Regions from separate parts of the Homo sapiens genome. Here all the other regions are reported to be linked to region 1. The links are microRNA targets in miRTarBase. Many come from high-throughput screens and were not tested one by one. Region 1 holds a microRNA gene; each other region holds the end of a gene's coding sequence.
What was found. The annotated mature microRNA hsa-miR-548ag reads AAAGGUAAUUGUGGUUUCUGC and lies in region 1 at 4,573-4,593, shown strand. An mRNA with a match to its seed (bases 2 to 7 or 8) in the 3' UTR can be bound and repressed. Matches are read on the target gene's strand: a 7mer-m8 pairs with bases 2 to 8, a 7mer-A1 pairs with bases 2 to 7 and ends in A, and an 8mer does both.

Region 2: the mRNA of MRPL3 is a reported target of hsa-miR-548ag. The part of its 3' UTR that is shown has no 7-base or 8-base seed match.
Region 3: miRTarBase lists PCMT1 as a target of hsa-miR-548ag. The part of its 3' UTR that is shown has no 7-base or 8-base seed match.
Region 4: miRTarBase lists SLC7A5 as a target of hsa-miR-548ag. Seed matches in the 3' UTR shown: 7mer-m8 at 5,297-5,303.

The regions. Positions count from the first base shown.
Region 1 is chr20:60,559,993-60,568,152 of GRCh38, forward strand. MIR548AG2 (microRNA 548ag-2) reads left to right here and starts at 4,570; the gene lies at 4,570-4,633.
Region 2 is chr3:131,455,721-131,463,880 of GRCh38, forward strand. It overlaps MRPL3 (mitochondrial ribosomal protein L3), which reads right to left. Exons shown (of 10, transcript NM_007208.4): 10 at 6,492-7,155. The coding sequence ends at 7,003. Among named protein-coding and RNA genes, the nearest start is that of SNORA58, 19 kb to the right of the region's middle.
Region 3 is chr6:149,800,814-149,808,973 of GRCh38, forward strand. PCMT1 (protein-L-isoaspartate (D-aspartate) O-methyltransferase) reads left to right here. Exons shown (of 8, transcript NM_001360452.2): 7 at 1,387-1,603. The coding sequence ends at 1,566. LOC107986660 (a long non-coding RNA gene) reads right to left here and starts at 4,526. Exons shown (of 2, transcript XR_001744415.1): 1 at 4,490-4,526; 2 at 2,312-2,980.
Region 4 is chr16:87,825,631-87,833,790 of GRCh38, forward strand. It overlaps SLC7A5 (solute carrier family 7 member 5), which reads right to left. Exons shown (of 10, transcript NM_003486.7): 10 at 4,393-7,395. The coding sequence ends at 7,340. Among named protein-coding and RNA genes, the nearest start is that of MIR6775, 4.9 kb to the right of the region's middle. RefSeq lists enhancers at 1-426, 2,384-2,973, 4,152-4,739, 5,918-6,506 and a silencer at 2,982-3,051.

The DNA.
Region 1 (8,160 bases):
GCCAAGTGGCTCCTAAAAGGCCACTTATTGGAAGGATCCCTGTCTTCTAAAGAATTGAAATTTCTTGGCCGGGCATGTTGGCTCACGCCTGTAATCCCAGCAATTTGGGAGGCCAAAGCGGGTGGGTCACCTGAGGTCAGGAGTTCAAGACCAGCCTGGCCAACATGGTGAAACCCCATCTCTACTAAAAATACAAAAATTACCCGGGCATGCTGGCAGGCACCTGTAATCCTAGCTAAGGAGGCTGAGACAAGAGAATTGCTTGAATCTGGGAGGCGGAGGTTGCACTGAACCGAGATTGTGCCATTGCACTCCAGCCCGGGCTAAACTCTGTCTCAAAAAAAAAAAAAAAAAATTTATCCACTGTGAACAACCAAAGTCACCATTATCATGGAATTTTACATTTTTCATTTTGAGGGGGTGGGGCAGGGATCACACAACTAAACAGACACAGAATAAAAGGAGTATGACAGGAAAACGGCCGCAGCAAAAAGCTAAGCAGGATCCAATGCTAGAGGGTGACAGGCGGCCACTGTCCCAGGACGTCTAGGGAAGACTCCTTCAGAAAGGCGAGGTTGGAGCAGAGGCTGGGAGCTGAGAGAGTAAGCCACGAATCTAGGGCAAGATGCCCCAGAAAGGAGAAGAGATGTGCAAAGATTGGAATGTCAGGTACTGGAAGGAAGCCAACACCGCTCGACAGGATGAGGGAGAGGGGCCGGCAGGGCAGGGAGGGGTCAGGGGCAGCCAGATCACTGGGAGCCTGTGGACCATGGCTTGGGTGTCGGATAGGGTTTGATGAACAGCCCACTGAGGGTCCCGAGAAGAGGGTGATGCTGGACTAGCTGCTGAGTAGTGGGATGGCTGTAATAGCATGAGAACATTTCAGGGAGCTGTGGAAGCACAGGGCACAGATGATGGTAGCTCACACTAAGGTGGGGAGAGCAGTTGGATGTAGACGACTTTTGAGGATAAATCTGATTTCAAGAGAGGAGGAGATAGGATGTCTTCATTTCTGCAGAATCTGCTTTTAGAGACAAACAGCAAAACAAGGCCAGCTAGATGGTTCTGTAACTTGAAAGGTAAATCTCTGGATGCTGGGGTCCATGGCCCAGATCATCCCTTCAAGACCAAGCCCCTGATGTCCCTCTGCAGGGCTTCTGGCTGCTGTCAGCTGACAGCTATATTTCTCTAGGCATTGCACCTCCCCAAGACAATGGCCTCACCCTAGCCTATATCCCCTCCCCGGGACAACACAGGCTCAGTGGCTGGTCTACTCAGTGGTAAAAAGGCCCAGCCATGCTGCCTCAATTTGAATGAAAAAGAAGTGCCTTCCATCTCCAGGGTCCCCTTGGAGATTGGCGAGGCCTCCTGGGCAACTGCACTGCACTTTAGCTTCTCCCTTTGCCCAGCCCTTCTCCTCCACTGTCGGGTGTTGCTGAGAACACTCCCTGTGAACCTGCCACAGGAAAATATCCACCTCCCAGTCTGTTTTCCTGAAACCTGACTTCAGATATAATCAACTCCTCAGCGGCTACAATGCAGGTAGAGGCCCATCTAATTACATCTTCTGATGGAAGGTGTTGGTGGGGAGCAGGGGGAGATTCACATTTCAAATGGCAAAATCTAAAAAAAGAGGAAAAGCATCTCATAGCTATAAATGAATAAGAAGCACCTAAGATAAGTTTTCAGATGTGATTCAGTGGTAGAGAAGAACAAGCTGTAGAACTTTCTAGTACATGGCTAGCAGGGCTGAGTAAATAGGATGACTTGTAACAGAGCCAAAAGTGTTTGGCCATCACAAAGCTCTTTGACAAGATCTGAAGTCCAGATATTTGGCCACTCATTTCTGAGTCATGAAAATCCTAAATGTGGTTGAATGTTCCTGTCCTTTATCCCTGCTCCCAGGAGCATCTTCCTTGTTCCTTTTGTAGTATTCTTCAGGGACTGACTCTCCACCCCCGAAAAATGGTGTGCCCTGTATCACCAAACCATGTGGGCAGTGTGGCCTCATTGGGTCTGGGGGTCTTGTTGTCCTGTAAGTGGGCTGGGGAGCTCTTGGGAGACTGAACATGCCAAGCAAATGAGAGTCCTGCTGATCACAGTGGCATGGATGTCCCCAAATACTCGGTGGAGAGCAGGAAGAAGGAGTTGTTCATAGAGATGTTATTTTCAATAACAGAGAATAGAGGGGGGCAAGAGGACAGGTAAGAAGCACCTGTCAGTGACAAGGGATGGGAGAGCATGGGGAGAACACAGATATCAAGGAAAATCAAAGATCTGCAGGGAAAGCATTAATGCTGAAACCCAAAGCCGCCTCCTCCAGCTTGTGGCTCCCAGCAGAGAGCAGGTCAGTTTCACACCACTTTTCTTCTCTAAGCAGCAGTGATCACTGGTGCTAGAGCCCTTGACAATGGCTTGTCCAGGGGAGGCCCTGCCCTTGGCCTTAGACGAGACCCCCAAGTGCTATTTGGAAAGCTGGGGATTTGGGTTTCACATCCAGGAGAAAGGGCCCTGTTCAATGGCCATAGTTGGATTAATGCTTAGGGCTGTGGTGATGGAGGGGAGGAGCCAGCAGTGTGCCTGACAGAGCAAATCACCCGCCTCAAGGGATTCTGAAGGAAAGGAGAGAGCCGTTAAAGAAAGCACGGGCAGCATAGCCTGTGCTGGAGTCTCCTGGGATCCAGACCAGGAACACACATTTTTAACAAGATCCCCAGATGATTCTGGGGCACACCACGTTCGAGAACCGCTAGATGAAGGGCTCTCTCCCATCTTGTGAGTCTTCACCTCTTCCCATAAAAAACCGAGATTGTTTTGTTCTTCTCTCTCTGCTCTCCCTATTAGGATTACCTTAAGCCACGGATTTTTGTCATAATTTCTATCCAAGGTACACCACCCCTTTGAGAATTTAACCAACGAACGAAACCCCCAAATTCCATTTCAAATCTTTCTTATTTATTTGCTTCAGGAAGGTAGGCCCCAATTGGCCATTAAGAAAGTGTGGTGTCATTTACTTAACGGGTCCTCCGGATTTATCTAGCTGGCTTTCCAGTTAAATGCAACCAGAGGTTTTCATTCAATGTCACAGTACATTAAGCTAACAGTTTCATTTCTTCCCAGACCTAAAGGAACAATGTATTTATTAAAGCATTTTGATCCTTTGGAGACAGATTAATCAGAAGCTTGTGTCAGTTTTGTATGATAAAATGAGTCAATAAGCAGAAATGGGCATTGACATTACATAAACTGAACACGAGTGGTACAATGCATATTTGTGGTGTCACAGAGAAAAATTAGGAAAAATTTTGCAGTATTCCATTATCATTATTAAACGATTACATCTCAGTTTTCAGGCTGTGTGCAGGTGGGGGTGTGTTTGTTTGTATGTATTTGTTATGGGACAGATCTATTTTTTAAAAAAGAATAGTGGATGAATTTGAACATGGACTTTGGAACTAAAGGCTAATGCTGTAAGACGTTTCTCCTTAGCTTTGCCATGGCTTTGACGGCCACAGTTTCAGTCACAGTGTCAAAGCAACCACAGACAACACCTAAACAGATAGGTGAGGCTACTTTCCAATAAAACTTTATCATACTGAAAATAATAAGCAGTCAGCACATTGGCCTAGAGAAATGAAACAAACAAAAGAAGCTGACATCTGTTTGTCTCCAAAGGAACAATCTGGTTTTGGATCTCCTTATCACAAGTCTGTTTATTCACTGGCAGTCTATTTTCACCTTGGATTTTAGTATTTTTTAGTATTTTGAGTATTTCAGTATTTAGCATTTAGTATTAGTTCAACTTTCAGGAATTAATTCGGGAAATAGGTTTTTTGTGTTACACTTCTTGTAATTAGAGACTCTTCTGGGCAGATGTTTCATTCTAATGTACCCCTGTCCTTCTGGGAAATCATAGAGATGGTAGTTTACAGCCAACGGCTTCATAGTGGAGAACGGTCATTTGTTTTAAACACTAGTCAGTCCCTGACATTTTTCTCACTTTTTAAAAAATTAAACAATTTGAGTAAAATTTAATTGTGTTAAAATGGAGATTAGCATGATCATTTAATATAAGTAGGGAAAGGTCTTTTATTTTGACTAGGGAACTCTGAAATTCAATAAATGACAAAGCTAATTAGATACCAAGGGCGAGTGTCTGATTTGTTAATCCTGTAACTGAAATGAGACTTGCTGGGAACACTATCAAACTGGCGGTTTTGAACTTCCAAAAAGCGCATTCCTCCTGTTCCTAACTTAAGGAAAAACAAATTCAGACCGAGTGTTACTATAGAAAGCCGAATCTCTCTCTTGTTCTGCTAATAATGAATTATTATTCATGCTCGAAGCCAAAATTATTAACCTCTTAAATTATATGCATCAAAAGGAGATGACTCTATCTAAAACCAGGAACAAAATTAGATATGGGTGATAGTGTCTCTGGCTGTCTAATGACAACCCGCTCCCTTCCTAATTTAATTAGCCCACTCTCCGGAAGCAGGAATCACCAAGCTGAAGAGCTGTGTGTGAAGGCTTCTCCGTAAATGTGAGTCAAACAACGTATTCGGTTGGTGCAAAGGTAATTGTGGTTTCTGCCATTGAAAGTAAAGGCAAGAACCTCAATTACCTTTGCAGCGACCTAATACACGCCCACCATGGGTTTCCTCCTGGGGACACACAGCTGTTTAGCAGCCCAGCCTTCGCTTTTAGTTAGGAGCTCAGGGAAGGAAGTAGGAGAAGGCTGGGAGAAACAGAAAGAGAGAGTTTAATCCATCTGGAATTCAGGCAGCCCCTTCCCTTTCTATGGATAAACCACACTGGTCCTCCCTCTGCAGGTTGAGGCGGAATCTGTGCACCAACGAATAGTGACAACAAATATCTGGCTCGCAAAACGCTTTCACAGATATACTGTTGAAGGCCCATGAACACTTCATCCAGGAGTTATTATTGTGCCTAAGTTACAGAGGGAGAAAAAGAGGCTTAGAGAGTTTGGGGAGTTTTTGGGGGACCATAAAGAAAATCCCAGAAAATCTAACGCAGCTGGGTGCAAAGACACTGGGTACATTTTAATCACAATTGGGTTTGGCCAAGCGCTCCCTGGGTTCAAGTGTGCTGGTGACAATGACTTAACAGAGTCTGCCTGCTCATTTGCTTGTTTTCCAGGCAATTGCTTTCATGGTGTCAGCAGCTCTCACATCAGCGCTCTGGGCCTTTCTTTTTCCTCTTGGTTACAAGGCTGGATGCATTACTGTCCTGGACTAAATTGGAGTTGCTTAGCAAGCAGGAAGACAAGGGCGGGGAGGGTTCCTATCCAGCCAGCAGCTCTCAGTGCTTGCCAGAACACAGCACCAGCCTTTTAACCTGAGACGGTGTCGTTGTTGGAAGCCTTGGATTGAAGCCACTTCCAACAGCACACCATCTCCTGATCACAGGAAGCATCTGTGGGCTAAGGACTGAAGCCTCTTTGGCACAAAAGTCACAAAAATGCTCTCCAGTTATGATGTGCGAAAGTTCTATATTTTGTGCAATATAAAGCAACAGACATAGGAACAGGTTTACTGAGACACAATCTCTTTGAAGAACAAGTTCCTGAAAGAAAGCTGAAAGTTTGCCATCAAGCAAACCAGCAGAATTTGTGTTTTTATAGAAATTACATATCTGGGCAGAACCCGAGGAAGAGCAGCAAAGTCACTGCATCCCTTGGCTCCTCCCAACGGGGCTGGTTGGCAAATTAAAAACGAGATGAGGAAGGGTTGGGACACCACATACTCCATCTGTTCCTCACAGTGCAGGGCTAATATATGACCAGGCTTTGGTGGGAAAACAGCCCAGGCACACGCTGCCTGTCATGTCCCTCTGTGGGCAGAGGCCAACAAGGATCCAGACCTCTGGACTGGAAAGGCAGATGTGGAAGAAGTGGAAGAACTGTGACATCCTCCAGCGTTTTGTCCTACAGGGCTGGCTGTCTCTTTCCCCTGTTCAGTGCCCATGGATCAGACACAGGCTCTGTATTGACGACGCTGTGAGCACGTAGGCTTCATCATCATGTCAACAGGTCCCTCTTTCCTCAGCTTTTCTTCTTTATTTGCTGTAAGAGCATAATTAAAACAATAAAATGCCTCCTGGATATTTAATGATGTGACACCAACACTGGTGATACATGGTGTTACAGATACTTATTAGAGACCACACGCTTTACACCCCTTTCTTTATGTCATTGGATACTTGAAAGGGCCCTCTGAGGAAGAGGGCGTATCATAATCATAGGACTAACCCATAGGACCCAGTTAGTCTGGAACCTGTTTCCACCTTTTGCCGTGACATAATGACACATTGTCCCTTTGTGCTCTTAAAAGCACCCCAGTTTGAAAAACAACATGCATGGTTACCCTATTGTGGCCACACTTTGTGTGCCAGGAAGTTGAAGACCAGAGGGGATAATTGCCCAGAGATTCACAGGGTAAGAGGGGCCAGGCTTGCAGTTTAGCTCAGGGGTTCCTGGTGTCACAAGCAAGACCCTGAGCCGGGAATTGTGCTCCCCTGCATGTCCCATGAGGGCGTGTGAAGCAGGGTGGCTTGCAGACGATTGTAGACATCCAGGAAGGCCCACCTGCAGATGGCGAAAGACAAGCCAGAGGGTCCTGAGAATCCACATTTCAACAGAACTAAATAAAAAGCAAATGACAATTTTGAGAAATTGTGATAGCGTGCAAAACACGAGCAGCACCCACCTGCACGGCCTCATCCTTGCCGTCCCCCCATCTGGCTCTGCACTGGGCTCGGGGCTGGATTCAGCCATAGGGGAGCTACACCTGCTCAGACTACCAGCCAGGTGGAGAAATGGGGGGGAAAAGTGTTTTAAAGGCTGTTCCTCTTTCACAAAACACAAAGTCCTACTTAGGAGAAAATAAAACTTTTGATGGACTTCCTTAGGTTTCTTTTATGGTTTTGTCTTCTTTAATTTTGAATTGTGTATGGATGAGTGAGGGGTCCTGTGTTCTTTCCCTACAGTGCACATTCTGTAGGTCTTCATGAAACCCAACCTGTATCTCAGTGAAGGGAGAAAATCCTAACAAGAGGAATTTGTACTCCACAGAAGGTTGCGTCTGCGTCAACTCAAGTCAGTTGGTGAAGGCTCCTCAGCCCATCAACAGTGAGCATGGTAGAGCTCTGTGTGCCCCAGCTGCTCTGGCTCAGTCTGAGGACTGCTGATCCAATGGCCGCACTCAGCGGGACACGTAGCCGACCAAAGGGTGTGGAGGAGGCTCCCTCAGGGTGGGGCCCCAATGAGAAAGGCTATCCTTTAAGACAGGACACATAAAATAACAGAGTTATCAGTGGCAATGGGGCATCTTGCCTTGGAGTTTGTATGTTTGAGTCCATAACTGGCCTTTGAACAAGGCAGGGTCTCCTGCTTTAGATTGTACCTGCCTAATTCAAGACAAATCCAGCTGAGGTGTGTCAGGGCCTCCTGCTTCCCAGCTGGGGCAGTGACTACACAAATACAGGTTGCAGTTTGCCAACTTGTGCAAAACTATGTGACTTTCAACTACATTTTAACTAGGAGAAATTGGCAACGTTTTGAATTCTGTGCCTAAACCTGGAGTTGACTTACTGTTCCACTTGGCATTAACGCTGCATCATTCAAATGCATGGGAACACCTACTCTGAGAGACGCTATACATTTTTAAGGTGTTCTATCTGGAAATGTCAACACAGAACTACATGGATTTTCTCTAAGTAATTAATTTATTACCTTGACTATTGCTCAGGAAAAAGCAAACACTAGAAAGGAGCTGATTAAAAACAATTTCTTCTCAAGAAAACATTGAGAAGCCAGAAAGAGAACTCGATGCATTCCTTGAGCCACTAAGAACAATCCACATGATCTGTCAGACACTACCAGGACACCCCAAGTGTTTCCCAGGGAGGGTTTCTCTGGACAAGTCTGAAGGGCCTCTGGGGTGTCCACCATTGCTCTGACACATGCATATGTGATTTCCCGCAGGATCCCTGACATGCCACTCCTGTCTCAAGACCCCAGATGATAGACACAACTTCTTTAGCTGCTGCTTTCAGCTGAGCTCCAGGTCCACAAATCTAAGCTCATGTTAATTTGGAAACAGAATGTGTGATAGTTCATTTCCATAGGTCCACTCTGCT
Region 2 (8,160 bases), not on the chromosome of region 1:
AAACCACTAATGACTGGGTCTCCTACTCTCTCCTGCCCCCCAATTCCAAGAATATTGGATTGGGGATTTTAAAAGCTCTTCTGTGGGGATCTAACATGCAGCCAGTGTGGAGAACTACTGTGTTAGGTAAGAGTAAGACTTGCCTTTGTAAGCCACTGTGAAAATTCCCTGTGCCTGACATGCCCCCTTCTTGTGTCCCCTTGTGTTTGGGTGGACCTTGTCATAAATACTTATCTCAATGACTCCTGGACCACAGAAACTTGGGCCTCTCTTTATGGCTAAGTGGTGTCTAAAAATGGGCTTTGGATCATTAAATCACAAAATCACACCTTCTTCCCATGGCAGGCATCCTCGTTGGTTACTGGCTAAAGAAAATTACCATGTGAGCAGGGAGATGCTGCCTGTCCCAATATTATAGATCTTTCTTTATTTGCTTTCTATCAGTGCTTTTTTTTTGCCTACTTCCTCAGCTTTGATTTATGTTTTCCTAAATATCTATTTCTTCTGTTCTGTCATTGATATTTTAGCAGTAGGCTGGCTGTTATTAGCAACGTGCCAAACTCTGTTTGAGGAGGGGGAGATAAGCACACCATTACCCCACAAAGTAGGGCATCAGATTCCGTGCTTCTGCAGTTAGCAGAAAAAAAGGGACAGTCAGCCAACAGCTCCAATGCCATCTTTGCTTCATCATTTAAACAAACCACTATTTTAGATAAGGAAATTTACGTTGGATTCTCAAGACAGCCATTTATTATTATTCATTTTGACACAGTCTCGTTAATATAGCCATCCGTGCATCTTTGTCAGGACTCTTGTGATGGAGTGTTTAGTTAGTTCCTTTTGAAATCAAGCAGATTTGGTGCAGTGTCAAAAACTGATGGATGTCTTATCCTCATTTGTTCAAACAACAAACTTTCTAAATGACCTAAAATATACTTGGTGCTCATATAGTCTGCTTTTGGAGAATCAAAATCACAACTCTCACTCTCCAGTCAAATCCAAAAACCAACAATTACGCACCTACTATGCCAAGACTCTTTGTCCAGTTGAGTTAAAATCATTTGTTTGCTTTTGTGGTGCTAAGGACCGCATTCGCTGAAATTAATATGGCCTGTCTAACTTGAACAGGCCACCTCATTAATCTAAAAAGAATAAAACATGTGACATGGACTGCTATTGTTTGCAAACATTTAAAAGCAGAAAAGCAAACGATGAAATTGAGGCTGGCAACCCTGCATGCTCAGGACTGGCTGTTTTCTGGAGGGGATAATGACACTGAGTCCTCTTATTCCAGGGAATCCTAGGTAATTGCTGGAGGCAAAGTCTGAATGACAGTCTTCATTTGTCTGGTGGGACATGCTTTGAGAGACCACTATCATTTATGGGGCCAAGCTGGTGGATGAGGTGTTCTAGCAGAAATAGCAATAAAACTGAAAACTGAAGAACTGTCTGTTGTTATAGTAAAGTCAACTTTAAGAAAAGTCCCTGAAGAGAGTAGAAGCTTTATCTATCACTACTAAAATAAACTCTCATGTGAAGAACTTCTTCCCATAGAGAAAACAGGTAGCCATGAAGTAACACATGATTATAAAGCTATTGAAGATGTTTGCCCAAGGTGGCCTCATAGCATAGTGAGTTGCTTCTGTCTGCCTGTCTTCACTCTCTTGGTTCAGCAGTTCAGTAAGTTATCAGCAACATGCCCTACCTCATCACGAAAGTGCTCCATTATAAAACTGTTCATAAAAGCATGATAAGCAGTAACATGATAAGTACCATAATAGAAACATAACATTCTTCTTGCCATAGTTCCTGCAAAAGTGGGGAAAACTTCCCAAGTGGTGACCTTCAGGCAAAACAGGCAGTAAAAGGCATTTTTAGAATCACACACATCCTACCAAGGGAAAAGAATCAGCCATAGAAAAATAATGTAGCTAGTAGAAGCACATCACACTCCAGGCTAGAAGACAAGTTTGCAAGACTCAGTGCCACAGGAAGCCCACACTGTGTTTCTACTCTGACAAAAATGAGGAATAACACCAACATTTAAAGGTATTCATCCCAGAGGTCCAAATAACAGGTTCAGAGTCAGCAATCTGAACACTGCTCTTTCCTCCCATCATGGGTTTTCACTGTGACACAGCCAACAGTCTCTCTTTGGGCAACGATTTAGGGCGTAGGTTCAATTTTGCTGGAATCAGGAGAGACTTCACTCTGACACACTCTTTCTCAAAGAGGGGTTTTTTGATTAGTACAACAAAATAAGCTACTGGATGTAAGGCAAGTAATCCTACAGACTAACGGAATTCATTCTGCATATGAGGAACCCTAAGTACGAACTCAGCTTCCGTGTGTTTGACTGTATTCTAATACTCTTTACACTAGAAAAACAGGCCATAGTTCTATACACATTTCTCCATATGTCCTGAAACATGGTCAGGTCCCATCTGCAAATTTACCTTTGGAAATTAGCTGTAAAGGTCATCCTTATATTCTACCCCTTGAGGAAAGTTGAAAAGCAGATTTGTACCTCACCATTAGACTGCAAAAGCACTACTGACTCAAAAGCACTACTGATTCTGAAATGCTTAATATTCTTGTAAAGTATATCCTTATACTTGCTGTAAGAAATATTTTCATTTACAACTTAATGTTTGTGACAGCTGGCATCATCCAATTTACCCATGCCAGGGGCCACTGTGGAAATAGGACTAATTAACATTTGCATTTCAGCTTCGGCTACCCTAGCAGGTAGGAAAAAGGTCTTGGAGAGGAAGGATGACCAGTAGTCTAAGTAGTGTAAGGGATACTCTTGAAAGTATTCCTTAATCTGTTGGCCTCTATAAGACTTAGAGAATTATCCAAGGTTCAGTATTTCCATATTTTATTCCTAATAGCTAGTACCAAGTATGCTGGAACAAATGTCTAATTTGAATGAAGTTTAATTACAAAAAGGTTCTCCATTTCAAGACAAAATCTAAAACAGTAAATCAAACTCAAGCTCAACTCAGGCCCAAGACAGCTCCACTGCTGAGAAGTGAATTGCCACCGTATCTGTCCAGTGGTCAGCACTGCTCAAGAGCAGACTTCTAGTACTGCCTGGGATCCAGAGAGTTGAGCAGGAGAGTACTGGGACCATGTACTCCCTATCTATAGTAGGCAGACTTCCATTTCCGAGCTGAACATTTGAGGACAGATGCTGAGGCAAAATGTTTGTGCTGTAGCCAGAAATAGTAACCCTAAGGTTCTTGGGAAATCACATTTTGTAGTGTTGGACTAGGCAGACTGGTTTAGGTATTCCACAACTGGAGAGAAGGACACAGTTCGTCTGGGCCACTCAGTTTGCCAGAATGGAGTCTGGATCCTCTTCAAAGGATATGTACCTGTAGAAGCTGCTGGCAGTGGGGACTGGTTGGGGTTGGGGGGTGAGAGTGAAAGTTTTGTTCCCTGATTCTAGAAGACAGGGATCATACTTGTAATCCTGGAAGGTGATCAGAAATGCTATTTTAAAACTCAAAAACAGATCCACAGACCACCGACTATAGTGAAAGAAGATGGTAAGTTTGGGGCAGGCTCTTTAAGTGCAGAAGGTTGCCTGCCTTCGTCAAAAAATCTTATGTCTGGGCAACTGGCTACCTTCATATACTGATTCCTTTTTCACAAATAATGCAGGTAAAAGATTTTATGTTCTCCCAGAAATAACTGTCCATTTGTCTCGCAAGATAACAGCTCACTGACAATGCACCTAAGTTAGTCAAGAGCTCTGATGAAGATGTACAAGAATAATGTTGTTTCCATGCCTAACACATCTATTCTGTAGTCCATGCATAAACGTGTAATTGTGACTTTCAAACTCTAATTATTTAAGAAATATGTTTTGTAAGGTTACAGTTGCCATAGTCCTTAATATATGAAGTTGCCATAATCCTTCAGGAAAGGATTCACCATTTTAGATGCCATTAAGAACATTCATGATTCATGGGAGAAAGTAAAAATATCAACATTAACAGGTGTTTGGAAGTTGATTCCAACTCTCATGAGTGGCTCTGAGGGGTTCAAGGCTCCAGTGGAGGAATGAACTGCAGAAGTGGAGCCTGAAGATGTGACTGAATTGCTGCCATCTCATGCTAAAACTTGAACAGATAAGGAGGTGCTTCTTATGGATGAGTAAAAGTGGTTTCTTCTTATGGATGAGTAAAGAAAGAGGTTTCTTGAGATTGGATCTACTTATGGTGGAGATGCTGTGAACACTGTTGAAATGACAACAAAGATTTAGAAAATTCCATAAATTTAGTTGTAAGGCAGTAGCAGGGTATGAGAGGATTGACTCAAACTCTGAAAGAAGTTCTACTGTGGGCAAAATGCTATCAAGCAGCATTCCATGCTACAGGGAAATCTTTTGTGAAAGGAAGAGTCAATCAAGTGGCAAAGTCCATTGCCTTATGCTAAGAAACTGCCACAGCCACCCAACCTTCCAGAAACTACCACCCTGATCAGTCAGCAGCCATCAACTTTGAGGCAAGACCCTCTACCACTAAAAAGATTACAACTTGCTAAGGGCTCAGAAGATCTTTGGCATTTTCTGACAATATTTTAAAATTAAGGTATGTATATTTTTAAAGATACAATGCTATTGAAACACACTATAGACTACAGTACAGTATAACTTCTATATGCATCAGGAAACTAAAAATTCTGTGATTTGCTTTATTGTGATATTTGCTTTATTGCCGTGGTCTGAAACCAAACCCACAATATCTCTAAGGTATGTCCGTATAAGTTCCTAAGCATAGTATGGGGGCATATCTAATGTGTACCATTTTAAGTAGTGGCTATTCTTGAATTTACACTTTCACATGAATTTTAGAATCAGTTTGACTAGCTCTAAGTCCTATTGAGAGTTTTAAAACAGGATTCAAATGAATTCTTTACAATATAACCTTCCCATTCATGGCCATGATATTCTGCTCCATTATTGAAGTTTTCTTATCTATCTTTCAAAAAAGAACATAAGACTCTAGCATATTTCTTGTTAGGCTTTCCCTAGGTGATTTTTAATTGCTATTATAAATAAATATCCATTTTTCCCATAAAATATTGCTATATGTTAGTGTATTAATCTTGTACTGTTACCTTTTTCAACTCTATTGGTTCTGATAGCTTGTCAGTTGTCTACCTTTCATCTTCTAGGTAAATATTTCTTACAAATAATGAGATTTGCTCCTACTTTCCAATTTATCTCATTACTTTTACTTGTCTTACTGCACTGGCTAGGACACCCAAGAATACTGTTGAAGAGAAGTTGTAGAGGGTATCCTTGTTTGATCCCTGAAAAGAATTCTTCTAGCATTTTACCCTTGTATATGATGATTACTAGAGATAAACTTTTAACAAGTTAACAAATTTCTAGTTTGATATTTTTTTTTAACCAAATATGGTGTGGTGGTTTTAAATGTAATCTACTCCAGTTAAAGACTATGACACTCTATTATTATCACTAATCAAACTCATGAATAATGAACAGTACATAAAAAATAATGTTATGTTTTACTTTAGCACCCAGGAAGCTCAAAACCAAACTATCTGAATATAACAACTCTGCACAGCATAGCCTGCTCATCTATATGACATTGACACTATTCCCTCCCCCAAAATACCACCTATTCTAATTTATATTATCCTAAATATTTTTCTCTTATTTTTCTATTTTATTGAGTGGATTTCCTATCAATTGCCATACATTTTTAATGGAATAAGATAAAGTATAAATAAAAACTTTAAAAAAACGTGGCTACCTTTGGATTTGAAGTGAAAAACGTGATATAACCAGGACAGTATAGCACATGGAAATCTAACACTATGACTAACAAACGTATTGGGTGATGTGAATTAAGAATCTGGTTCAGAGGAAATCAAGTATTTAAACTGAGGTCTGCTTATACACATGGTTAAGCTTATTTGTCATGACTAGCCATTAGTAAATACATGTTAATTTCATACAATTAAAAAGAAACCCACAAACCATTAGCATTTTGATTAATACATGATTAATAAAAGTTTGCTGAACATACAATCTTAGATCATTATAAATTCTTTTTGAAAGGTAGACTGGGTGCAGTGGCTCACGCCTGTAATCCTGACACTTTGGGAGGCCATGGAAGGTAAAAAGCTTGAACTCAGAAGTTCAAGACCACCCTGGGCAACATAGTGGGATTCTATTTTTACAAAAAAATACAAATATTAGCCAGGCATGGTGGTGGGCACCTATAGTCCCAGATACATGGGAGGCTGAGGTGGAAGGATCACTTGAGCTCAGAAGGTCGTGGCTGCAGTGAGCCAAGATCGCACCACTGCACTGCACTCCAGCCTGGGCAACACAGCAAAACCCTGCCTAAACAGAACAAAACAAAACAAAACCAAAACACACTGATCTTATAATTGAGTGATAAAACTAAAAAGTAATCACCTCTCCCAACAAAAATGTAAACAGGACCGATAATTTATGATTTTATTGTCTTTCCTTTGTCCGGCCTTTAACATGTTTCTGTAATTTAAATAAAAATCTATTTACTTTCTCCATTTTAGCAAATGGTTTCTTTACCCAAATAGGTTGCACTATAGTCCCCATATGGTTTTCTACTGTTCCACAACCACTATTTCACAAAGATTGACAAAACTTTAATAAAAGTTAAATTTACAGACATCTTAAGATAACTTGGGAAATATGTAGTAAAAAAGAATCGAGTCCACAAATTAAGAATATTTTGCTAATATGCCCAACACCAATTTCAGCAAATCCAATCTACTTAACTCATATATTTAATGTGGTAATTTTTCTAACAAAATTTAATGGGGGTATGAATGATATATTTATGCCCTTGACAAAGATGACATGTGTGATTTTGTTGTGACTAAGAAAGGAGAGTATGATTTCTGGTGGTTATGATATCACTCTGGCTCATCGAAGCTCACAGAATATGTAAGGTTCTGCCACGTCCAAAGATGTTAGGCAAATGTAATAGAAGGCGCACCGGGCTGACACACGTTTTCATCATACAAATCTTCTGGCAGTTCCTCTTCATCTCCATCAGGAAAATATGTAGGGAATGGTAGATTTTTACCGAGATCCTTATATGCAGGCAGTTTAGAATCTTTGACCTGAGAGAAGGCAAAAATCTTAGTGAAACCAATTAAGTTCTTTAAAGGTAGACTTTTCAGCTATTATTCATAATCAAAGAAATACTCGCTACTACATTTTCTAATGTGAATAACACAACTGTTACATAAATAGAGTAAAAAGAACTCAGTCAATGCTTTCCTTTAATTCTAAAAAATTTGACTAATCCAGTAACAGAAACTCAAGAAGCTATAAGGATAAAATCACCAATTGTTACTTTGTATCTTAACTTGTAAGAATCTCTAGGATTGCCCACAGGATGAAATCACATTCTAAAATTACTACTTGAATTTCATTTATATGGATTCATTTTCAAATATAATGACCTGACAAACTAGCATTTTTGTTAGTCTTAACTCTAAGAGCACATAATCAAAAATATCACCTCTTATTAAGGAAATCAGCTTACATTTTTCTTCCCCTACCAAAAGAGTCATTTCTCCAACAAATAAAACAAACAAGATTGTATTTCTATGTCACATGGTCAAAAAAAAAAAAAAGTCCTGTATTGACGGAAAATTTAAAGTTAATTCTTCAGCATTTTCAAATTTGGGTAAGGGCCTTTAAGTTGAGACTATTTTATATCATTCTTGATTTAGCACTGAATACTTCCATGGCCTTAGTGCATTTTTCTGCTTATAGGTGTGAGCAACAAGAACCAATCCTATCTTCATATACAACAAATGCAGCACAATGTATGTCAGAGCATACATTCTTATTGATAAGTTAAAGACAGAATAATATTTAGCAAAAACAATAACAGACCTATGGGTCTTTATAAGAGCTCTGTTAACTCTATATATTCTCAAAAATTCTAATTATATCTGTGAATTCACAGACTGAAGAATTTTAATATAGGTACTGATGTGATCTAAAATGTTGAGTTTTATTTTTGGAAAACATTATTGGATTCTTCAGAACTTCTGACTCATTCTACAGCCTTCATTCATAAGTAAAGTTTTTAAAAAAATTACATGTAATTATAT
Region 3 (8,160 bases), not on the chromosome of region 1:
CCTCCCCTCCTCCTTCCTTCAAACCCACAAAGATTCAAAACAGGCACACAGGCATTAGAATTCTATGCTCTGCCTTTGGCCCGCCAAGAGGATAGTTCTATATTAGTTGGTTCAGTTCAAACATTTTGAGCACTACAGTTGTACCAGGTACTGTGTTAGATGCTAAAGACACAAAGATGAATAAGACACAGTCCCCATCCTCAAGAGCTTGTCGTTTAATAGAGGAGGCTGATAGTTGAGTAATAATATAACAATCAAAGTATGTACAGGGTGAGTATCCCTTCTCCAAAATATTTGGGACCAGAAGTGTTTTGGATTTTGGATTTTTTCAGATTTTTTCACATTTTGGAATATTTACATATACATAATGAGATATCTTGGGAATGGGACCAAGTCTAAACATAAAACTCATTTATGTTATACCTCTTATACACATAGCCTGAAGGTAATTTTGTATAATATTTCAAATAATTTTGTGCATGGAATAAAGTTGTGATTGCATTTTGACTGTGACTTGCCACATGAGGTCAGGTGTGAAATTATCTACTTGTGGTGTCATGTTGATGTTCAGAGTTTTGGATTTTGGAGCATTTCCAGTTTCGGGTTTTCAGATTATTGATGCTCAACCTGTATATACTATGTATTTATTTTTAAGACGGAGTCTCGCTCTGTCACCCAGGCTGGAGTGTGGTGGCGTGATCTTGGCTAACTGCAGCCTCCATCTCTGGGTTCAAGCAATTCTCCTGCCTCAGCCTCCCAAGTAGATAGGACTACAGGCATCTGACACCATGCCTGGCTAATTTTGTACTTTTTTAGTAGAGTTGGAGTTTCACTGTGTTGGCCAGGCTGGTCTTGAACTCTTGACCTCAAGTGATCTGCCCACCTTGGCCTCCCAAAGTGCTGGGATCACAGGCGTGAGCCACCGTGTCTGGCCTTAATTTGTATATACTAAATAAAGAACGTTTCTGCTTTCTGCCTATGGACACTAAAAGTTGTTTATAATGATGTCAAATGACTATTAATATAAAATCTGGGCCGGGCACAGTAGCTCACGCCTGTAATCCAAGCACTTTGGGAAGCCGAGGTGGGTGGAGTACTTGAGGTTAGGAGTTCGAGACCAGTGTGGCCAATATGGTGAAACCTTGTCTCTACTAAAAATACAAAAATTAGCTGGGCATGGTGGCGTGTGCCTGTAGTCCCAGCTACTTGGGAGACTGAGGCAGGAGAATCACTTGAACCTGGGAGGCAGAGGTTGCAGTGAGCTGAGATCGTGTCATTGCACTCCAGCCTGGGCGACAGAGTGAGACCCTGTCTCAAAAATAAATAAATAAAATAAAATAAAATCTGTAACTTGGTGATGTATGTGCTTTTTTTTTTTTCTTTTAGCTAATAGATCAGTTAAAGCCCGGAGGAAGATTGATATTGCCTGTTGGTCCTGCAGGCGGAAACCAAATGTTGGAGCAGTATGACAAGCTACAAGATGGCAGCATCAAAATGAAGCCTCTGATGGGGGTGATATACGTGCCTTTAACAGATAAAGAAAAGCAGTGGTCCAGGTGGAAGTGATTTTATCTTCTGCTCTTTCTTCTTCCACACATGCAAGGTGAAAGGGTGTGGATTTTAAGACATTAGACTACAAGAGCTGTTTTTGGTTGTCACCTTTATGCTCCTCCATTATAACGTCAGAAATTCATTACATTAAAAATGTGAAAAATGTTGCATGGTCTGCCCTTATTTTGGTTTAACATATATATCTTTGGGAAAGGGAGGGTGAGACTTGGTTGGCACAAAGGCTTTTTTTGTTTGTTTGTTTGTTTTTTTTTTAGAGAGACTTTCAGCTTCAATTCAGTACTTTGTAAGGATTTTTTCTTCATTATCAGCCACTCTGTTTTTATGTTTTTAAATTATTTTTATAGCACTGGATGGGCATGGAAACAATGAGTTTGGTCTGTAAAAGAGGCCAGGCGGAGTGGCTCATGCCTGTAATCCCAGCACTTTGGGAGGCCTAGGTGGGCGGATCACTTGAGGTCAGGAGTTTGAGACTAGCCTGGCCAACATGGTGAAACCCCGTCTCTATTAAAAATACAAAATCAGCTGGGCGTGATGGCACAGGCCTGTAATCCCAGCTACTCGGGAGGCTGAGCCAGGAGAATTGCTTAAACCCTGGAGGCGGAGGTTGCAGTGGGCCGAGATTTTGACACTGCACTCCAGCCTGGGAGACAGAGCAAGGCTCTGTCTCAAAAAAAAAAAAAAAAAAAAAAAAAAAAAACAAGGGGCCATCATTTCCTGCCCTGTTTATTGTACCAACAAGGAGAAAGAAGGGGAAAGATAACGGTCGTCTCAGTTTTCTAAAATGTCAGAATACCAGAGAGGACATTCTACCTCTCAGCTTGGTTTATCTGTTTCAACCAAATCATAGATACCTGACAGCCCATGCCTATTTTTCATTCAGCCTTGTTTAAGAGTCACCTTCTCCCCATTCTATAGAATAGGCCAGCCACTGTTTAAGCTATTCTGGCTAAATTCCTAGGAAGAGGCAAGGATTCTACAAGTTACCCAATGAGTGCCCAGGTCTCACAAACCCACCCAGAGGGTCAGCAGCATGCAGCAACTTTCAGCACAGCATGGTTTATAAAGAATGTCCACTTTTGTTTTATGTCTCAGCATAATCTGAATATTTTGTTTGAAGCCAAGATTTCTCTTTTCCTCCCCTTCCCACTCCCTTCCATGAGAGAGAGTGACATCAGTACATAACAGTGCCATTAGCTCAAATTACTTGAAATTAAATGCCAAAACAAGAACGGCTTTACAGTTTCCTTGTCTTAGCATCTTATTTTTATTTGACATAAAGATTCTTATTTTAAAATAATTAGTTTCTTAATAAGTAAAAGGGGTGATAATAAGTTTAATAGATCTCTCAATGTTGTTTTTATTCTTCACCAATAGCTATTTTCTGTGAATTATACGTGGAGCACAGCCACTGGAAAAAAAAAAAAAAAAAAAAGCATTTTAGTCCAGGCATTTTGGGAGGCTGAGGTGAGCCAATCATCTTAAGTCAGGAGTTTGAGACCAGCCTGGCCAACATGGTGAAACCCTGTCTCTACTAAAAACACAAAAATTAGCTGGGCATGTTGGCTTGCATCTGTAGTCCCAGGCACTCAGGAGGCTGAGGCAGGAGAATTGTTTGAACCCAGGAGGCAGAGGTTGCAGTGAGTCGAGATCACACTACTGCCTTCTAGCCTGGGTGACAGAGCGAGACTCTGTCTCAAAAAAAAAAAAAAAAAAAAAAATTAAAAAGGCATTTAAAAAATTACTGGTTTTTTCAACTGGAATCAGATGTAGTTATTAACAACTAACTAAAACCTTCCTTCACTTTGCTTCTAGTATGGTTTATACAATTACATAATTGTGAGATTATTGTAGTATAAAAGGGGCAAATATGTTACTGAAATTACTGAAATTTGATAAGAAGAGTTGATTTTCATTAGCAACTTAGAAATTTTTCTTTTTATATACAATAAATATTAGTGTTGAACATCTTGCCTATAATTTATAATTTATAATTATGAAGGAATTATAAAAAGGGAATTTTGTTTTTATGACTAGAGGTAGATTTACTGTGAAGCTAACAAAGCTGAAGCTGCAGAGCCCTTGCTTGTCTAGGTTTTCTCTGACCCTGTTCTTAATTTAATTTAATTTAAAAAAGTGTTTTTTTTGAGACGGAGTCCTGCTCTGTTACCCAGGCTGTGTAGAGCAGTGGTGCAATCTCAGCTCACTACAACCTCCGTCTCCCAGGTTCAAGCAATTCTCCTGCCTCAGCTTCCCAAGTAGCTGAGAGTATAGGCGCCCAGCTAAATTTTGTATTTTTAGTAGAGAAGGGGTTTCACCATGTTGGCCAGGCTGGTCTCGAACTCCTGACCTCAGGTGATCTGCCCGCCTCGGCCTCCCAAAGTGCTAGGATTACAGGTGTCAGCCACCATGCCTGGCCCTGTTCTTAATTTTATATTATGCATAGTCTTACTGATTTTTTTTTTAACTTCATAAAAAGGTTCCCCTGTTTTCTAATTATATAAACCTTAGGCCCCCACAAAACCTGAATCCACCTTTGATAAAACCAAACTATTTGTATTAAGAAATTTAAAATAGGGCCAGGTATGGTGGCTTATGCCTGTAATCCCAATGCTTTGGGAGGTTGAGGTGGGAGGATCACTTGAGGCCAGAAGTTCAAGAGAAGCCTGGGAAACATAGTGAGACCTCGTATCTACTAAAAATTTAAGAACTAGCCAGGCGTAGTGGTGTGCACCTCTAGTTCTGGCTACTTGGGAGGCTGAGATAAGAGGATCACTTAAGCCCAGAAGCGGCAGTGAGCTGTGATCACCACAGCATTCCAGGCTGGGCAACAGAGCAAGACCTTATCTTTAAAAAATATATTTAGAATAATTTTTAAATTTATGGACAATTAGTCATCTGCTAAACATTAAATGTATACCTGCTTTTAGGCTGGGCGCAGTGGCTCACGCCTGTAATCCCAGCACTTTGGGAGGCCAAGGCGGGCAGATCACAAGGTCAGGAGATCGAGACCATCCTGGGTAACATGGCGAAACCCCGTCTCTCCTAAAAATACAAAAAAATTAGCCGGGCGTGGTGGCAGGTACCTCTAGTCCCAGCTACTCGGGAGGCTGAAGCAGGAGAATGGCGTGAACCTGGGAGGCCGAGCTTGCAGTGAGCTGAGATCGCGCCATTGCACTCCAGCCTGGGCAACAGAGCGAGACTCCGTCTCAAAAAATGTATACCTGGTTTTCTTTTTGACCTTCAAAGTTTTTTAAAAATTGAACAAATTTAGGCTGGGCACAGTGGCTCACGCCTGTAATCCCAGCACTTTGGGAGGCTGAGGCGGGCGGATCACGAGGTCAGGAGATCGAGACCATCCTGGCCAACATGGTGAAACTCCATCTCTACTAAAAAAACAATACAAAAATTAGCTGGGCGTGGTGGCAGGCACCTGTAATTCCAGCTACTCGGGAGGCTGAGGCAGGAGAATCACTTGAACCTGGGAGGTGGAGGTTGCATTGAGCCTACATTGTGCCACTGTACTCTAACCTGGCGACAGAGTAAGACTCTGTCTCAAAAAAAAAAAAAAAAAATTGAGCAAACTTACATGTTCGCACTATCAGAAAAAAAAAAAATTTCTCCAGGTGTACCAGGAGGACTTTCTAATTTTTCTGTTGTAGATGCTTTTCTTTGGCCATTTGTTCAGTTGCTAAATATTTTTCAGCGTGAGGATCTTCTTAATATTATTCGTGAATTCAACCAATATGCATATGCCAACTAGGCCAGGCACTGTACTAGGTGCCAGGAGTCATCAGCTGTGAATTTGAAACTGACTGCTCTCATGGAGCTTACAGTAACGTAGGAGATGCAAAGACCAAGATGAATAGGCAGTTATAGGGTAGTGTTCAGACTCGCGGTAGGGAGCCAGGCATTGAAGTGGTCAGAATTACATTTCAGAAAGATAACTCTAGCTGTTATGTAGAGACTAGCCTGGGAAGGGACAAAAGTCGAGTCAGAAACAGGAAGTGGTTATAGCAATTCAAGGATGAAATGATGGTCTGCATTAAGGCAGTGTTAGTAAGGATAGAGAGAAGTGGGTGGATAGCTACATCTAAAATACTGTCACTGTTTTCTGGGAATTATCATCTAAAAAGTTCCCTAGTCAACTTCTTGCCAGGCTACGTGATTTCTGTTCTTTCAAACTTTCCGTTTTTGTTTTTGTTTTGTTTTATTTTGTTTTGTTTTGATACAGTCTCTCTCTGTCACCCAGGCTGGAGTGCAGTGGCATGATCTCTGCTCACTGCAGCCTCAACCTCCTGGGCTCAAGCGATCCCCCCTGCCTCAGCCTTCTGAGTAGCTGGGACCACAGGGTGTGCCACCATACTCAGCTGATTTTCTTGTTTTTTTTGTAGACAAGGGGTTTTGCCATGTTGCCCAGGCTGGTCTCGGACTCCTGAGCTCAAGCGTTCCACCCACCTCAGCCTCCCAAAGTGCTGGGATTACAGGCTTGAGCCACCAGCCTCAAACTTTCTTCAGGATTACTTTAACTCATTATAATACTTTCCTAGGAACCTTCTCTTGTGTCTCACCAGCTTTCCACCTTTCTTACTGAGGAATAATCCAGAGCTAATTGCGGTGCTCTGATGAGGGTGAGATCCCATTTTTGCTGAGGCGATGTGGCAGAAACTGTATTTTTAAAAATGAGAATTAGTGGACATGTGGAATTCTAGTACCAAGTAAAGATCCAAACTTGAATGTAGACTTGAGTCTTTTTACACTTGGAAAGATGTCACTTGTAATTTTGGTGGATTAATAGAAGGGGAGACAATGCCAGATCTATAGGCCAGAGACCTAGAATCTGTGGAATTGTGTTCATGACTATGGACATGTAATAGTTGTATTAGTTGCTACAGAAAGTTAATAGTTCTTAAGTATTATTTTATTTTAAATAAATAATTTATATGTAAAAATATTTTGTTAATCTTCTGGTAAAAGTTTTATTTTTATTTATTTATAGATATTTTTGAGACAGAGTCTTGCTCTGTCACCCAGGCTGGAGTGCAGTGATGCGATCTTGGCTCACTGCACCTCCGCCTCCTGGGTTCAAGTGATTCTCCTGCCTCAGCCTCCCGCATAGCTGGGACTACAGGCACGCACCACGAGGCCCGGCTAATTTTTGTATTTTTAGTAGAGACGGGGTTTCACTGTGTTGACCAGGCTGGTCTCAAACTCCTGACATCAAGTGATCCACCCGCCTCAGCCTCCAAAACTGCTGGAATTACAGGTGTGAGCCACCACACCCAGACTATTTTTGTTTTTAGTAGTCACAAGAGTTAGTGTAATTGGTCCATCTTTAGTTTGTGAAACTGAGGAATGTTCAAGTTTATTATTCCATAAGCTCTTTGTTTATTGATGTCTTCTTAAAGTGCCTTGCATCTATGAAAAAGATGTTAGGAATTGACTGCATTTCCAAGACTGACAGTATTGGTGCTAAGGGATCCAATTGATCCCGTGTTCCATATTCTATATTGTTCCTTTTTAATCTCTTTACATATGTTCCAGTATTGTGACATACATTACATCCTTAAAAGCAGGGATATATTCTGTTACTTTTGGAATTCTTTTTGTCTCTCATAGTGCTTCGTACAAAGCAAATTGTACAACACTTTTATTACCTTGGAAGATCCATGAAATTATTAGAAAACGTTCATGGATTTTGATTGTTGTTTCCTTATAGTATATCTTTTCATTTATTCTTGGTAAAGAATGTATAAGACTAAATGTTAGTATCATAGAGTTAATAAAATCTAATAAATAATTAAATTATGTATAATTATATACTAGTAGAAATATATACAGTTATTAACCTAATGAATATATTTAGCATAGTATATAGCAATTTTAAAGAGCCTTTCTAAAAATTTAGTACATACTATTTTTTATTGTAAATGATCTATACATGTAAGTCAGATAAAGAAATGGTCATACAGAATTTTGAACATTGGGGAAAATTTAATAACTTGAAAGTTACATGGATTTTAGAGTATTAGGCTTTTAAAAAATTGTGCACGCGCTGGCAGCAAGTTTTTGTTTTTCCCTAGCACCTCTAATTTTAAAATTCAGGTCTATAAACCTAATTTCTTTTCCTTTTTTAAAGTATTTTTTAGACAGAGAGGATAGTTGGAAAAATGGTACCTATGTTGTTGAGGGGGCATTAATTTATTTACAGTATACTTAATGTCTTGCAGCAGGTAAATTGTAGTAAATTATTATTATTATTATTGTTTTCTGAGATGGAGTCTCGCTCTGTCGCTCAGGCTGGAGTGCAGTGGCGTGATCTCAGCTTGCTGCAACCTCCGCCTCCCTGGTTTAAGCGATTCTCCTGCCTCAGCCTCCCGAATAGCTAGGATTACAGGTGCATGCCACCACACCCGGCTAATTATTTGTATTTTTAGTAGAGACGAGGTTTCACCATGTTAGCCAGGATGGTCTCGATCTCCTGACCTCATGATCCGCCCGCCTTGGCCTCCCAAAGTGCTGGGATTACAGGTGTGAGCCACTGCCCCTGGCAAATTGTAGTAAATTATTTAAAAATAACAATATCTTTGG
Region 4 (8,160 bases), not on the chromosome of region 1:
AGACTTGAGTTCAGCTCCTCTCCTTCCCGCAGGCCCTTAACCTGGACCCCCTCAGCCTGGGCCAGCCCGTGACTCCCCACCCCCTGAGACAGTGCTGGCCAGGGGAAGCTGATTTGTTGTCCCTGAGGCCACCCACCCCACCCCCGACACAAGAACAAAGAACAAGGTTGAATTCTTTCCAGCCTTGTTCACATCCCCCATAAAAGAAAACCTTTGGCCAGGCACCGTGGCTCATGGCTGGAATCCCAGCACTTGGGGAGGCTGAGGCCGGCAGGTCACTTGGGGCCAGGAGTTCAAGACCAGCCTGGCCAACATAGTGAAACCCCATCTCTACTAAAAATAAAAATTAAAAAAAGTAGCCAGGCATAGTGGTAAGTGCCCGTAATCCCAGCTACTCTGGAGGCTGAGGCAGGAGAATCACTGGAGCCCGGGTGGCGGAGGTTGCAGTGAGCTGAGATCACACCATTGCACTCCAGCTTGGGTGACAGAGTGAGACTCCATCTCAATTAAAAAAAAAAAAAAAAAAAAAAGGCCGGGCGCGGTGGCTCACGCCTGTAATCCCAGCACTTTGGGAGGCCTAGGCGGGTGGATCACGAGGTCAATAGATCGAGACCACCCTGGCTAACACGGTGAAACCCCATCTCTACTGAAAATACAAAAACAAAATTAGCCTGGCGTGGTGGCAGGCACCTGTAGTCCCAGCTACTCGGGAGGCTGAGGCAGGAGAATGGCGTGAACCCTGGAGGCGGAGCTTGCAGTGAGCCAAGATTGCGCCACTGCACTCCAGCCTGGGTGGCAAAGCAAGACTCCATCTCAAAAAAAAAAAAAAAGTCTGGATTGGCCAGGTGCTATGGCTCACACCTGTAGTCCCAGCACTTTGGGAACCCCCCAGGCAGGCAGATCACTTAAGCCCGGGAGTTTGAGACCAGCCTGCCTGGGCAACATAGCAAGACCCCATCTCTACAAAAAGTTAAAAAAAAATTAGCCAGGTGTGGCGGTGCACACCTGTAGTCTCAGCTACTCAGGAGGCTGAGGCAGGAGGATCACTTGACCCTGGGAGGTCGAGGCTGCAGTGAGCTGAGATTGCACCACTGCACTCCAGCCTGGGTGACAGAGTGAGACCCTGTCTCAAAGAAAAACAAAAAGTCTGGGTCGGGCTTTGATTTTGACATTCCCCTACCTGTGTCCACCTCCGTCGACAGGGCTGGACGTTGGTCCCTGCAGTGGCCTGGCCGGTCTCTGGGCACCCGTAACTGCTGCAGCCCAGAAGGGAGCCCCTCCCACCTTCCCGCAGACCTGCGCCCCACCCAAGGGGCCCGGCCGCCGCTCACTCGGGGCCCCCGAGCTGAGATGGGGTGCTGGCTTCATTTTTTTTCACCTCTTCCACAAATACTGACCAAGGCTTTTGTTCAACCAGACCCTGGAACTGGGGGACCCAGTGGGGGACAGGGCAGATGACCTGTCTTCAGGAACCTTCCCGGGGTGGGGGTGCACCCATGGGTGACTGCAAGAACGCTAACACCAGCACTGCGGGTGCAGACCGTGCTCTGGGGGGGGACAGGGGCTGGGTCAGGGCAGGCGTCTGACCATGAAGGGTGGCCTGGAGGGAGAGTGATCCAGGCTAAGTGGAAGGCAGTGGAAAGCCCCGGGACGGGGGCGGATGGGGGTGCGGGGCAGAGCTTCGGGGACTCCAGGGGCCCAGCCTGACTGGAAAAGGGAGATTGGGCAGGGCCAGGGCTGGTGGGGCTGCAGCTCTGTGGGGCGTCTGCATTTCTCTTCAAGGGCAGGAGGAGCTTTTCTGACTGGTGTTCGGCAGGGGACTGAGGGATGAAGAACAAATCAGGGTTTTTAAAGGAGTTGACTTGAAAAGGTTGCAGGCCGAGCGCGGTGGCTCACGCTTGTCATCCTAGCAGTTTGGGAGGCCTGTAATCCCAGCTACTCAGGAGGCTGAGGCAGGAGAATTGCTTGAACCTGGGAGGCAAAGGTTGCAGTGAGCTGAGATCATACCACTGCACTCCAGCCTGGGTGAGAGTGAGACTTCGTCTCAAAAAAAAAAAAAAAGGTTATTGCAGCACCGAGGACTATCGCAATGGGGGATCTCTGCTCCCACCACAGGGTCTACAAGGAGCTCCAGGGTTAGGCAAAGGCTTTTTGTTTTTTTTGAGACGGAGTTTCGCTCTTGTTGCCCAGGCTGGAGTGCAATGGTGCGATCTCTGCTAACTGCAACCTCCACCTCCTGGGTTCAAGCGATTCTCCTGCCCCAGTCTCCCAAGTAGCTGGGATTACAGATGCCCCCCACCATGCCTGGCTAATTTTTGTATTTTTAGTTGAGAAGGGGTTTCACCATGTTGGTCAGGCTGGTCTGGAACTCCTGACCTTAGGTGATCTGCCTGCCTTGGCCTCCCAAAGTGCTGGGATTACAGGTGTGAGCCACTGCACCCAGCCTGGGTTTTTTATTTTATGGGGGTGTGAACAAGGCTAGAATCTGTGTGGGGAGTTGGGCGCGGGGCCTGAGGGGCAGTAGATAGAGGGGTTCCCCGGGCCAGCCTGGTCTCAGGGAGTGGGAAGTCACAGGCTGGCCCAGGCTGAGGGGGTCCAGGTCCTGGGCCTAGGGGAGGGAGAGCAGCCGAGCTGGGTTTGGTCAGCAAGCATTTTGTTCTGATGGATCCCTGCCGGTCATCGGCGAGGTCAAGGGGACTCAGGGCCTGGGCTGGGCCTTGCCCTAGGTAGACCCGGGGTGGGGGCATCTCTGAGTCTCCCTCAAGTCACATGGGAAGAGGTTTCTCTGCACAAGCAGAACACAGGGGTCAGGGGTTTCTTAACCTTCACTGTTTCCAGGAGCCCAAGGCTCTTTGAGCTCCATGTTGGCACCAAGCATCTCGAAGGAGCCAGCTGGGCTGGGGGCCAGGCGGGCTGGCAGTCACTGAAATGCCACCTGGGAGGGCCGCCGAGGCTGAGGCTGCTCACCATGCTGGTAGCAGCACCTGCAGGGCTGGCTCACCTGTGGCTCCCAGCCCCACCCTCGGATATCACTCAGCAGGCCCCCAGGGAGTCCCCAGATGCTGGTGCAGGTGTGTTGGGGCCTGTCTCACCGGTGACCTCACATGGCCAGTGTCGGGGGTGGGGCAGCCTGTGAGTTCTCTCCTTCCTGTCCCTCGACAAGCCCACCCTAACGGTCAAGTCCGCAAAGGGGTACGCACCTGCCGCAGGGCCATCCAAGGTCCCCAGCTCCAAAAATTGCTTTCCAAATTCCAGCTCCCTTAGAGGGCAGCCAGTTCTCAATTGTGAGGGGGTGAGCTATTGGATTAATTTGCCTTTGAACAGCACTGAGAGGCCTGGGCCTCAACTTCCCAGTAGTGAAGACATTACTACAATGCGCCCGAATCCTTCCAGAACCCATGGGAGGTGGGTGGGCCCTTCCTGCCTGGGTGGTCAGAGTGGGGGGCTCACACAGATCCTGAGCCAGGGCTCTAGGTGACCCTGGTTGCTGCAAAGGTTCCCAGCTGCACCCCAGAATGCCCTGGTCCATCACTGGGCAAGGTCTCCCTAAAGAAAGGGCTGCGGGGAGGGGGGTGCCCAGCCTACTAGGGAAAAGCCGCCCAACCCCCAGTCCCAGGAGACCTGCAGCCAGGAGGCCTCTTTGCTAATACCCTGTGGAGCTGACTGCTCACTCCAGTGACTTTGTATTTCTGGAGCCCTCCCAGCTCCTCGCGGGACTCGGTGGCTCCAGGATAAGACTCAGACTATGGGGCCCACTCAGGGCCTGTCCCCCACCTCCCGTTCAGCTGGGACTGCGTGAGTCCTGCAGATAGGAGCAGCCTTCACTGGATCCAGGACGGAGCCCTATGGTTGCCTTCCCACCCCGTGCTGGGAGGTGGATGAGGGGCTCATGCTCTGAGCCCCGGACTCGCCCCCTTAACTGAGAGGCTCGGGAGTGTCCTGGGAACACAGAATCGGTGCCGCTTCCTCTCCTGCTCTGATCCCAGGCTGGAGAAAGGCTTCCTTCCTGACCTCCCAGGAGCTGGAGCCCCGCATCCTCTCAGCGGGTGACCCCCAAACCCCTCCCAACTTCACCCCTGCAGCTCCCTGGGACTGGAACCTTCCCCCTCCTCCCCGGTGGTCTCCACCTGAACATCCCTGCGCAGGCTGCCTGCCCCCCACTCCCGAGGCAGATCCGATATCTTGGCTCGGCACCCCCACCCTCGAGGGGTGCGTGCTCACATGTGTGCAACCCGCCCATGGCTCACCCCCACCCAGCGGCCTAAGTGGGCTGTCGGTGAATGAATGAATGAATGTGTGAAGGTGGGAAGGAATGAGGTGGCCAAGAGGGGGCCAGGAACGTTCCTATACACAGAACCTGGCGCAGAAGAAAAGAACACAGAACATCAGCGGTAGGATGATTGAGTGTTTCTTTAAAAATAAAAACCCCACAAAAAAGCCAGAACACCCTACCCAACCCAGCCCAGTGTAACAGGTTAGCCATTAACACAGAATAAAGAAGGTCCCAGCCACACACGTCATTACTCGGCAGAGGGTGTCCAGCCTGGTCGGCCGACGTCACAGTGGATGGCCCTGCGTGGCTGGGACACAGACAGGGAGCAGGCATGGCACCTGCGCCACGCAGAGCAGCAAGGCTGAGCATGACCACTGGAAATAAATAAACATGGTGCCGACAGCATCTTTAAATTAGTAAGACGTTAGCACAAAACAAAAAAGCACAACGACTGAAAATGCACTTGCTTGTTGTGGTGGGTTGTGCTTGAAAACACCTGAAGCCCACAAGTGGAAACCGCTGGGGACGTTTGTCAGTGGAGTGTGGAGAAAAAGGGACGGAAAAATCAAGTCTTCTGAGACAGTCCCCTGCGGTGGCCCTGGTCCCTGTGGAATTCCAGCACAGCAGGAGGGGGAGGGGGAAGCAGGCCTCAGTCAGCACCGCGGGACACGGCCCCTACCTTCTGAAGTGGGGTCCCCAGGCTGGAGTGGGGCACACAGCACCAAGGATCACAGACTGGACCCCCCACCAACCTTCTGCGGAGGAGCTCCCACCCCAGCTCAGACGCCCAGAAGAGACCTGCGCAGTGTGAAGACGGACCCCAGCGGCCCCAGCCATTTCACTAGCAGCTACTTTCCACAACAGACGCTGGCAGCCCCCATGCTCGCCCACAGCCGCAGCAGCCAACAGGCAAGTGCGTGCCGTCGAGAGGCCGCCGGCTCCCTGTATCCTTGAGGCATGTCCACGTCCCAGAGCAGGAGGTTGGAACAGAACGGCATCCCGAGGACCCCTAGCCGAGGCGGGAAGGTAAGAGGCTGACGTCGTGCGTGGGCCCCGCCGGCCCCAGTGGGAAGCAGTGGTGCGTGCCTCCAGGGAGCACTTCTCCTGGACCCGGGGCCGTGGCTGCCTACGATGTCCACTGCCTCCTGGATTCACACAGCAATGCACCAGGCAGGTGGGGCACCAGCTGCTGTCCTTATTTGCAGCCAAGAGAACAGGCCCAGAGGGAAGAGGTCTTGCCCAACACAGTCAGTCCACCTGCCTGCTGGTGGTCCTCGGCCTCCAGACCGTGGGCTGTCCCTTGGACGAGTGGAATTCGTCCCCAGGAAGGATGCAGGTCCTATGAGCAGACGCTGTGAAGTCTGTCCATGTGCAGCGGGAAGCAACGGGGCAGGGGTGAATAAAGGTCTTCATTCCTCAAGCAAGAGAGACGGACATCTGGTCCTGAGTCCCCAAACTGTTCATCAGGTTTCTCCGGGCCCACTGGATGGTGAGGGGGTCCCGGTGCCCAGGCGGGGGCGGCAGGCTCCACTGGGCACTTGCTGAGAGCTTGCGGCTTGAGCAGCCGCTGGTCAGTGAAGCCGTGTCCGGCTTCGTTGGCTCCCGGCTTGGGACACTCAGGGCTGTGCCACAGGCCAGCTCCTCCAGCCACAGCTGAGCACTGGAGTGACGCTGGACCACTTGGCTCCACCTCTGGCTGGGGAGAAGGGAAGCCCGGGGCCTGAGAAGGCAGAGCCCCCCGAGCTCAGGAGGGATCCTGCGGGGTCTTCTTGTTCTGGGGGTCCCTGGCTGCTGCCATGGAGGCAGCGACAGCTCAGGAAAGTGGGCCGCATTGGCCAGGCCTCGGCTGCCTCCCATAGCGAAAAAAATTCACGGGAACAACAGAAACAAGGGGTGCCCTAGTTCCCTCTCTGCAGGCGGGTGGGGACTGGGTGAGAGCCCAGGGGCCTCCAAACGCAGGCGGCAGAGACGTGAGCAGTGCTTGGCTCTGTCTCCTAGACAACGGGCATCAGGACCAGGACAGGACATGAGCGTGACAGGGAGAGCGGGGAGGTGCCTAGGCCGGGAGTGGGAACCCAGCACCGGCCAGAAGGGGCTGCCGGGCGGTACAGAGGCCAATGCATTGGAGGCTGAGGGTAGCTGCGACCTCTGGGGCAGGGGACACTGCTGTGTGGAGCCCAGGGTGGGCGCCCACATGGGTGCCTGGCCGCGGTGTGTCTGCCTTTCTTGTCTCTGTTTCTAGAAGACTGAAGGACAGGGCTTTGTCTGCATGAACCAGAACTCAGCCTCCAAAACTGGACACAGAAATAGCCAAGAGGCCACACTGCCCAGAGGCCAGGCCTGGTGAGCTAGGGGAGATGCCGGCACCCCCCAACCCTGGGGCTGTTCCCTGGCTCAGGATGGTGTCTCGGGGCTAGGATTATGGTCAGGAGTCCATCGGGGCCTCAAGCACCTCCTGGGAGGAATCACCCACCTTGCCCAGATCCCCCACCCCCTCCCAGTGCCACCCTACGGCTGAGTTTCCACTCTGCAAACCCTAAGGCAGAGACATAAGCCCACAGGGTTGGTTTTCACGAATGTCACAAGCCCATGTGTCTGGGCAGCTGTCCGGCTTCAGTGCAAGTCTGTGGTAGCAATGAGGTTCCAAGTCTCAGTAGCTCTGTTTGCCCAGGGTCTGGGCCCTTGGGGCAGGAGAAAGGAAGGCTCCTGCCTTCCCCCAGCTCCTTAAAAAATCATCTTAGTGGTGTCAAGTTGACCCAAAATTTAAGTTTAAAAAAAATATATATATAAGTAAACAAAGGAGGGAAGGGAAAAAGGGCCCAAGGAGACCAAAAGCTGCTCCTGGGCAGGAGCACAGGCACACCTGGGTCCCTGGCCCTCAGTTGAGGGATGAGATTCGTACCAGAGTTTTCACAGCAGCCTCCACTGCCCGACCTGGGAGGGACGGCGAGGGACTGGGATGGGCAGCTGAGCTGTGGGTTGCGGGGAACCGGAGTGGGTTCGAGGAGGTGATCTACTTTAACTGGCCTCTGCGCATGCTCCTCCGGCAGCCACTCGGCCTCCTGGCTATGTCTCCTGGGGGACCACCTGCATGAGCTTCTGACACAGGACGGTCGTGGAGACTGTCAGGAGAGAAGACAGCTGTGTTAGCCTGGGGGCTGGGTAGGCACCCGTGGGACACGGGGGCGTGAGCTGGGGCTCCCCCAGCCCTGCTGTCACCAAACCCAGCGCCGCTGCCCAGCGCTGGGATTTTAAGGAACCTTCCCTTGTGTACTTGCGCATGTGGGTGCCGGGTGCCCGAGGCGCTGTCTTCAACTGAAATGCGGAAGTGCCACATCCCACTCGGCCCACCCCTCGCCTGCTTCAGAACCCTGGGGAGGCAGAGTGCGGCCCCTGGGGCACACGAACCAGGCCCTGGTGTCTCAGCAAAGTGCAACGGGGGGATGACAGGCCTTCCTGCAGGTCCACACCCGGGCCACCACCTGGACACATGCCTGGACTGTTCACAGCAGGCAGGGCCGGAGGGGCCAATCTGCTAACGGGTCCTCGGAAGACCTGTCGCGCCTGGGACTGTCTACAGAGACATCACTCTGTGGAGGGGGACTGCTTTCAGGATAGAGACGGGGGTTTGCTTTAAGCTCTTGGTGTCCTGAATGACAGTTAATGCAGATCCCACTGCAAAGCTTGAGGCAAATGTTCTACCATGACCCTGGCGGTGATCAGAGTGTGGGGTAGGGGTGGGGGGTCTCCCTGCCTGTGTTGCTGCCATCCCGGGAATTCTCCAAGCCACCCAGTGACATGGGGATCAGCATGTAGGCCCGCAAGCACCCCGGCCTTTTTCTACGAGCCTGGCCACATTTGCAGGCGCTGAGGACGGGGTCCTGAGC